2 separate regions of the Homo sapiens genome follow, and region 1 is linked to region 2. The links come from fine-mapping of genetic effects on gene expression. A gene starts in region 2. The other region holds a variant in brackets. All regions are shown on one strand. Distances are between the middles of the regions. Region 1 overlaps TCF7 (transcription factor 7). Region 2 holds the start of SKP1 (S-phase kinase associated protein 1).

Region 1 (4,515 bases), 51 kb after region 2:
GGCTGGCAGCGGCTCTGGTTCCTAAGCGGCTTTCCCACGGGGGAATAAGGTGGGCGGGCGCACCCATACCCTGAGACTCCCTCAGCTGCCTCAGTCCAGCCATTTCCCATGACTCAGAGCCTAGGAAACCCCCTAGCCCAGCCCGGGATCACACAGAGGAGGGTGCCTGGCCCAGGAGTCCAACAGCAGGCACTGAGCTGCATCAGGACCAACACTAGAAAGAGGAAGTGATCCACCTGTAGACAGGTCTTAACTGTCCTTCCATCAGGCACCAAATCGGAATCAATCCTAATGTCATTTACGGATACTTTTCCATATAACATTCCTTCTAGAAGCCCTGGGCACCTGCCTTTCAAGTAAGAAAGACAGCCCTTTTGGCCCTGGGAGCCCTGAACTTGCCAGGTGTCTGGGGAGGAAAGGGGTCATCCCTGACCCAGGCCCAGAGCTATGAGGTGCCCCTGGAGAGGGAGTGAGAGGACTATGGCCTTTCTCTGGGGCCAGAGGAATCCAGCTGGGTCCAGCTTATGAACCTGACAGTGTGCTGGGGGTACCACCCAGCTTCTTGGCCCGCAGTGCCCCCATCTCCACACATTGTACAGCAAATGGGATAGAGCAGGGAGGAGCATGGGTTTCAGGGTAAAACAGACCAAAGTTCAAATCCTGACTCTGCCAGGTATCAGCGCATTCCTTATCCTCTCTGAGCCTCAGTTTCCCCATCTGCAAAAAGGGAGGCCACAATAATACCTACTTTCTTGGCTTGTACGATCTTTTTTTTTTTTTTTGAGATAGAGTCTAGCTCTGTCGCCCAGGCTGGAGTGCAGTGGTGCAATCTTGGCTCACTGTGACCTCCGCCTCCCAGGTTCATGCGATTCTCCTGCCTCAGCCTCCTGAGCAGCTGGGATTACAGGCGTGTGCCACCGCACCCGGCTAATTTTTGTATTTTTAGTAGAGACGGGGTTTCACCATGTTGGTCAGGCTGGTCTCAAACTCCTGACCTCGTGATCCGCCTGCCTTGGCCTCCCAAAGTGCTGGGATTACAGGCGTGAGGCACTGTGCCCTACCGACTTGTACAATCTTGATATGAGTAAAAGCCCCTGGCATAGGCCTGGCACTTGGGAAGTGCTTGACACATGAACTACTGTAGTTGTTGTTATTCTTTCAACAACTGCTTACTGAGCACCTACTGTGTGCCAGGCCCTAGGGTGGGCACTGAGAACCCAGTGGTGAAATGAACAGATGTGGCCTGGGCCCCACAGATCCTCTCCGGCCCTTTCTGGTCCCAACTCCATCCCTAACACCACCCCCTGCAACATGGCCATCGACCCTGTGGCCTTGGCTCTCCCAGGTTCATCTGTCCCCACACCCCCGCCCATGGGGATGCCCACTGCCTCAAAGGCTGCCAGCGAGCTCTGGGGTGGCTGCTGCAGCCAGGCACGCACTCGGTGGCCAGCCCGCCTGGACCTTGGCTGTACCCAGCCAGCAGAGACCTCACTGCTGCCACTGCCGCAAGGCTCTCCACAGGCTGCCTCTCAGCATCTCAGAGGGCCCACCCACCTCTGCCTGCCTGGCCACCACGCCAGCCACAGAGCCATCTGATTTGAATGAAACTTCAAACTTAATGACTTTCATGCTGGTTATTTAAAACACAATGTAATTTTCTAAAACACCCTATTATTTCTTTTGATAGCTACAAAGCTTCCCCCAGTCCCATAAGCATGTTTATTTTTAGGGAAAAGAGTGGTTTGCAGTTGGTCATAGAGACCATAAGGAGAGGGAACCCACA[C/T]AGCAGGGCAAAGAGTCAACCCTAGCAGCTCAGAGGCCTGTGCTGCCCTGCCTCCTGCTTAGCGGGTTTTCCACCGGACACCGGGGTCTCCCGGGCAGGCCCTGCCCTACTCTCACAAACATGTTGGCAGTGACTCTCGTCCAGCATTGGACAGTGGCCAAGTAAACACCAGACTAGCACCCTCCCAGTGCTCCCCCTCCTTGGGGCCACTGTGTCCTCTTCTGTAAGATGGTTCCACTAGCTTTCCAATAAGGTTCCTACCAGCATTCCAGGCATGACAAGCCTGGGGAAGGGTCCTGAGACCACCACCTCACCCTCAGCAGCCTCCTCCTGGCTCTCCCAGACATTCTGCCTTGGGTACAGCCACAGGGCCTGAAGCTTTCACCAGCTGAGTGAGACCTGTGCCCAGATAAATTGGCTCCAGGCAGTGGCTGCCCACACTGGGAGGGTGAGTGGGTGGGGCCCTGCCAGTCGGGGCTCCCTGGCAAGGGAGGTGGCCTGGTGGTGGGTGGGTGTGCGTGCAGAGGTCAGCTGAGCCCCACCAATGCGGGGCGTCCTCTGGGAGCAGCTATTTTTAAGTCCCAGGCTTTCATGTGGCCAAATGATGTGGAGTTTACAAAGCATCAGTAATGCGTTTCAGATGGCGGCCCAGCAGGCCAGGAGGCTGGGCCCGCTGCCACCAGAGCCAGGTCAGAGTTAGTCAGAATCCCTCGGCCTAGACTCCCATCACCTGTCCCTCCCTCCCCATGACCCCTTCTTGCCTGGTGGGGAGGCTGGCTCTGGAGCAATGCTTGCAAGGAGCTGCCCAGCAAACCCCGGCTGAGGCCCACCCAGCACACAGGCCTCTCCATGGCCAGGGATTCCTACCCCATTTAAGAAACTGAGACCTAGAGAGGTTCACAGATTTGCGTGAGGTCACACAGCAGGGGGAGGGATGGCTTCCTTCCCATCACAGCTCCCTGCCCTCATGGGAAAACTGGGTTTCCTGGGAGGAGGTGATTTGCCACCACTGGCACCCAAACCAGCTCAGACATGGTGGAGTGGGGGCAGGCCTAACCGTGTAAACCCCCAAAGTCCACACCCACTGTTCCCTGGGGCCACGTCCTGCCCATCCATGCCTGGAGCCTCTGCCGCACACTCATCATTTGGAAGCACATGGTGTGGGGCCCAGACAGCTTTCCTGCCCTTGAAGAGCAAGCTAGTGGTTTTAATGGGGGGCAGGGCGGGGGGGTTAGGAGGAAGCTTATTTGGCAGAGTGTCTGCTCCTCTGATCTCTAGGGAGTTCTAGCTATGGAGTTGGGGCTGCGGGGTGAGGGCTTTGTGTCCCCAGGCTTGCTCCGGCTCTAGAGTAGTCTGCTAGCAGAGCCCAGGCAGGTGACCTCCTCCCAGGAGAAGGCCAGACTCAGGCTCACCCCAGGCCAGAGTCCCTATCCAGCAAGGGACAGAGACCCTCTACTCCCTGGGGAACTGGGCAAGAGGAGCCCCATGTTCCAGCAGAAAGCAGGGGAAGGGGGAACCCTCTGAGGAGGACAAGCCCACCCAGGCTGTAGACAGCTTGTGTGCAGCAGCAGAAGCAGGCCACACATTTTTAAGGGAGGAAGGCGGTTTCCCAGGTCCAGACCCCAAGCATGACAGGTCTGCGAAACAGGACAGCAAACTGCCTGAACCAAGAAGCTGACAATGTCCTGGTTTCTCAGAGATGCCCACCCTCCACCCCTGCCAAAGCCCCTGGGACCCTGGAGCTCTGCTAGAGACAGAGCTGGTCAGAGATGCTCTCCACACCCTGGCTGAGTCACCAATGGGCCTTGGGACCTGAGCGAGCCACTGACCTCTGGGGTAGAGTTCCCCTCAGTAATCAGGGGGCCAGACCCTAGGATCCCGAACCCCGAGAGAGCATGAGGGTCAAATGGAAGGATGGGAAAATGGAAAGTTCTCACCTCTGAGGTACCCCTGCCTTGCACTGCCCAACACCCTTGGGTCTTCTCCACCCAAAGCCTACCTCTCCCTTGGCTCTGTTCGAGTTCCTCCCATGATCCCCATGCCTCCTAGCATCCACCCTGCCCCAGCAGCTGGCTCTCCCCGCCTTTGTCCGCCATGTCCAATTCACACCATCTGTGGGTGGGTACCGCCTTGCCCTACCATGATGCCAACATGCTGCATGCGCCCATCAGCTTCTCCCAGGCTCTGGAACCAGCGCTGCCCCAGCACCAAGGTCACAGGCTGGGACCTTCTTCTCCAGTCTCACCGCACATCCTTCGTAGACCCTGGGCCTCTGTCTGCCCCTCTGCTGATGGAGCATGCCAGCCTCTGCCTCTCTCCTCCTTTGTTCCAGTGGGGCCCCCACCCAGAGTGTTCTCCCCCTCTCACCTGTGCAGGCCCCTCTCTCAGGAGCCTCCCCTGCTGCCCCCACTGGCCTCTCCCTCCTCTGTGCCCTTTTCCCAACTCCAGCAGAATCTCAGAGCCGACTTAGAGGCTCCCAGTGAAAGTCTCTTTGTCTCCCAGGACTGAGCTCTGGAAGGGCAGAGGGAGCCCGCCACATGCTGAGCCAGGCGAAGTATAGAGAAGGGGCTCAGTCGGGGTATGGACCCAAGATTACAGCAGAGAATGTGTAGTCTATCGACAGGCTGAGGGCCCAAGGGTAGGGTAGGCCAGAGGGCACTGCCCCAGGGGAGCTGGGAAAGGAAAGTGCAGCCAAGGCCCCAGTCCCACCTCAGCTTTTGGAGCACTCACAC
Region 2 (4,000 bases):
ATTCTAATAAAGGGGGTTCTCAGACATATTTGGAAAAATATATCCCTACTTTTATGCCAGACCCTGTGCTGGGTCCCCGGGCTGTGTGACCTGACACTGCACAGTCCTGCTTAGAATGCTTAAAGAGAGTTAATAAGGTACCACCTTCTATGCCATAGGCGGGGAGCAAAGGGGCTCCAGTGGGCCCTGCCTAGGAGGCCTGAAGCTAGAGCTGCTGAGGGCAGGGCTGTGCTGCAAAGAAAATGTCTGAGAGCTGCAGGCGTTTCATCTTCTGTCATCAGCTGTGGCACCTGGCAGACACTGGATAGGCTTGTAGACAAAGACCTGGTAACTCAAGGAGCTGCTTGGCCTTCCTGCCCAGTCCCATCCCAGAGGCACTGTACATCTCTGGTTTCTTCAGGGGGCCCTGTGTGGAAGTATCTTTTGTCTTCCTGGTGTCAGGGATATCATCACGTGCCTGTTGGCTAGGCGAGCCCGGCGCCCAGTCTCCTAGGATGGGGAGAGTAATGTTCCCGAGCAGAACAGGGTGGGGCTTTCAGACTACTCCCTTTCCTTTACAGCTGGCTTCATTCCATCGACCTCATCAAAGCCTTCCTGGGAGCACCCTAGAGAAGAGTTACGTCCAGGCCGGGCCCTGGCTGCCTGGTTCACGGCGGAATCCCCAGCACCACGCCTCGCACGTCGGGCTCAAAGCATGTTTAGTGAAGGAGTAGGTACCTACTGCTAGATGGAGCCATCTCTCTAGACTTGGGGTTTCCCTATAACGATGGCTATGTTTGGCATGGAAGCCTCTTTAGAAGTCAATAGTAGGAAATAAGGGCTAACAGCACCTAATTGTGGAGTAAGGTTCAAATCCTAGCTCTGCCACTTAACCGTTCCGAACCTGTTCCCTCACTGCAGAGGCGAAAAGGCTAACACTATTTCACCTCGGAGGGTTACCGTGGAGAATGGAAGCTGGACAAGCTGTATCAGTTCAGTAGTAAAACACACACACACAAGCGCCCCACCCCCACCCCACCCCACCCCAGGAATGAACACACACACCCGCGCGCGCACATACACCTCAGGAATGAACACACGCGCGTACACACACACGCAGCCCCCCCCAGGAGTGAACACACACACACACGCCCCGTTCTGTTGTTCCCAGGAACACACACAGAGACGCACACACTCGCCCGGTTTTGTTTTTTCCAGGCTTTTTAACTGGGGTCTTTCACTCGGCTTAGGGCACCGCTGCCTGAAAGACCTTTCTAGGCCAGTCGGGGTCCGGCACCCAGTTGACGAGACAGCGCGGCGCTTTCAGAGCTGGGGAGAGGCGAAAACTCTTCCGGCCCCCCGATCCCCCGGCCAGCCGCCCCCGGCAGCTCCTTGCCGCCTCCCGGCCTGGGCCCGCCCAGCCGTTCTCGGCCTGCCGTCAGGCGATCTCGGCGGCCAGCCCAGCCGCGATGTGACGCCGCGCGCCCCGGGGTCCTCGGCGCCTGCGCCCTCTCCTATAAAGCAGACGCCGCGCCGCGCTGCGACGCTGTAGTGGCTTCGTCTTCGGTTTTTCTCTTCCTTCGCTAACGCCTCCCGGCTCTCGTCAGCCTCCCGCCGGCCGTCTCCTTAACACCGAACACCGTGAGTAGCCGCCCACTGAACTGGAAAGGGTCGTGGCTACCGGATTGCGTGCCGGCTGGCCTCACCGCTGCGGTTTGGGCCTGCCCGCGGCGGGCGGTGACTGGGCCTGGCCTTCTTTCGGGCCCGGTGGATCGCGTTGTCGACCCTGTTCTTCGGGAGACCCTACCAGGTTCCGTTCACCTGCCCCGCCCCCGACTCAGCGAGGCCTCCTCTGGCCGGGCGTCCTCACGGCGCTCCATAAGTGAGCCGAACCCCGGGCTGGGCCTTCTCTGCACCGGCCGAGCGTCAGCCGGCGCGGAGCTCGGCTGCAAGGCCCAGGCTGCGGCCGGGGGCCTCTCTTGGTCTTAAGCCTGCTGTCCCGGGGACCAGGGCGGGGGTGGCGGCGGGGTTGTGAATGGGGGTCCCTTGGCTGTCGTGAGCGTGGGCGTGTGTCGGTGTCTGGCTTTTGTTGTGGTCGGGAGGGAGAGCTGCGGTGGTGGTCTGAGGCCGCCCGGTTCTTGGCTCCCATCCTTTCTCCACCGTGTCTGGCGTCACTAGCTACCGGTCGGTCCTGGCTAACCGTGTGCGGGCGCCGGCTTTCTGCACATAGCCGCCTGCTCCATCTGAATATTTCTTAGCGTTGTTTTGCCATGACTTGGAGTCGTTGAGCAGATACCATCGTCAGAGTGGTGTGACTTGTAGGAGCCTTAACTGTGTATAACTTAACTCTAGGTATCTGGCTTTTAAAGAAATAGGACGTCTACCTGCTTTGATTCACTTTTAATGGAAACTTCACGTTTGGGTTTTAGGGACATGCATTTTTCCTTTAGAGCGTGACAGTAGAATGTATCCGTTTCATAGAACAATACCGTCTCCTCCACTGTGCAGTCTAAAAAGCAGTGTCAGAATTTCGGGTCACTTAAAGCGCAGGGGTTTTTTTTTCTATATGATGTGATAGAACCCGCTTTATGCTGGCCATGGAGAATTATTTACAAGTGCAGGAGCCTTTAGGCCTCTTTCTTTAGAATGGAATTGTTTTGAAAGCATTTCAAATAAATATTTCATCCATTATTACTTAAAAATTTTGCACTTTATTCTACTGTAACACTAAAACTTATCTTTGAGTTTAGTATTACCAAGTGCATCGAATTACAGATTAACCGATTGACCAGCTGCTATTTAGTAAGGTCTCAACTCCCTTAAGAGTAACCCAATCCACAAACTTGACTATGACTAAGCACTTATCTTGAGTTATTTGAAAGAAATATGAAACGGTCGTCTTGCTTTTAGAGTAATTTTAATCAACTGCATTGTTAGATTTGTGATTCTGCACTGTTCATTTCAGTACTATCTAATATAAAAATTACATGTTTAAATGTTTTATAATTAAAAATTGGGCTCAGGTTAAAATATTTTCTTTTGGAGATACCTTTTGTTGTGGTCTTGTCACAGGAAGGGTCCTCTACTCTGCATCCTTCTCCATTAAGCAGGGACAACTGCATTATTGGCAAGCGCTAAGCAACATGGAGAAGCAGACATGTTTGTGAATCGCAAAGTGAAATCTGATTCTCTCCAACTATGGATGAGTGAGAGTAGGATATTTCAGTGGCTGGTTTTAAAACATGCTTTACTTTTTTGCTTCCTTTGCCTAACAACCTGTTTGCTTTGGGGTTGGCGACAATTGTCTCAGAGAAGCTGAATGAATATTTTAACCGATGTAATGGGTCATAAGTCTTTGAACATAAAATGGGTGTGATGCATGTTTTAAATGCCAAATGATACACTTTTGGGAAAATATATGCGATTTGTAATACAACACACCTAGAAAACTTCAGAGGTGCCATAAGTTAATAGTGACATCACCGGATTATGAATACTTGAGAAGCATGGGCCTTTTAAAAGTTGTATGTGAGTTTTAAGAGGCCTTGAATTAATCTGTACCAGGTATTGCTATTCTTTTTGTTGTTGTTGTTTTCCTTGTTTGTATGTTTTCTTTTTTAAAAAAAGAATTTGAAGATGGTAAGAAATTGTTGGACTTTTAATTTTAAATGCCTTTTTTTTTTTTTTTGCCAGAACTCAAGTCCTTTGAAATTAAATGCTTAACTTTTTATGTAAGATTATATCTTTTTCCTAACGACTCATAATTAATCTGAATTAATAAATGCGTTTTCAGAGCAAGTAATAGGTTATTATTATGGAGATCTTGCCAAGAGATCTCAAAGTTGGTCACCTGGACAGTCAGTACTGAAAGATAAAAAGGGCTCTGAAATGAAGCTTTTAAGTAGATTTAGGGAATTGTACTCACATCTGCTTATCTTTAAATCATTTTATTCTCTTGTATATGGTCTTGCATTGCCTCAGACATAAATGAGCATATTCTGATGTACTCTTTGGATCTGAA

Evidence for each region. PIP is the estimated chance that this variant, and not a neighbour inherited with it, causes the effect. A credible set is the group of variants that fine-mapping cannot tell apart.
Region 1: its variant is the best candidate, but not a certain one, in a credible set for the expression of SKP1 in whole blood (INTERVAL, PIP 0.63).

Annotation. Positions count from the first base shown.
Region 1 is chr5:134,123,164-134,127,678 of GRCh38, reverse strand. The region is part of intron 3 of TCF7 (transcription factor 7); the gene reads right to left. Among named protein-coding and RNA genes, the nearest start is that of TCF7, 11 kb to the right of the region's middle. RefSeq lists an enhancer at 1-202. The variant C/T (reference allele first, on the strand shown) is at 1,784.
Region 2 is chr5:134,174,475-134,178,474 of GRCh38, reverse strand. It overlaps SKP1 (S-phase kinase associated protein 1), which reads left to right and starts at 1,525. Exons shown (of 6, transcript NM_170679.3): 1 at 1,525-1,620. RefSeq lists enhancers at 107-621, 1,525-1,774, 1,865-2,144 and a silencer at 1,295-1,374.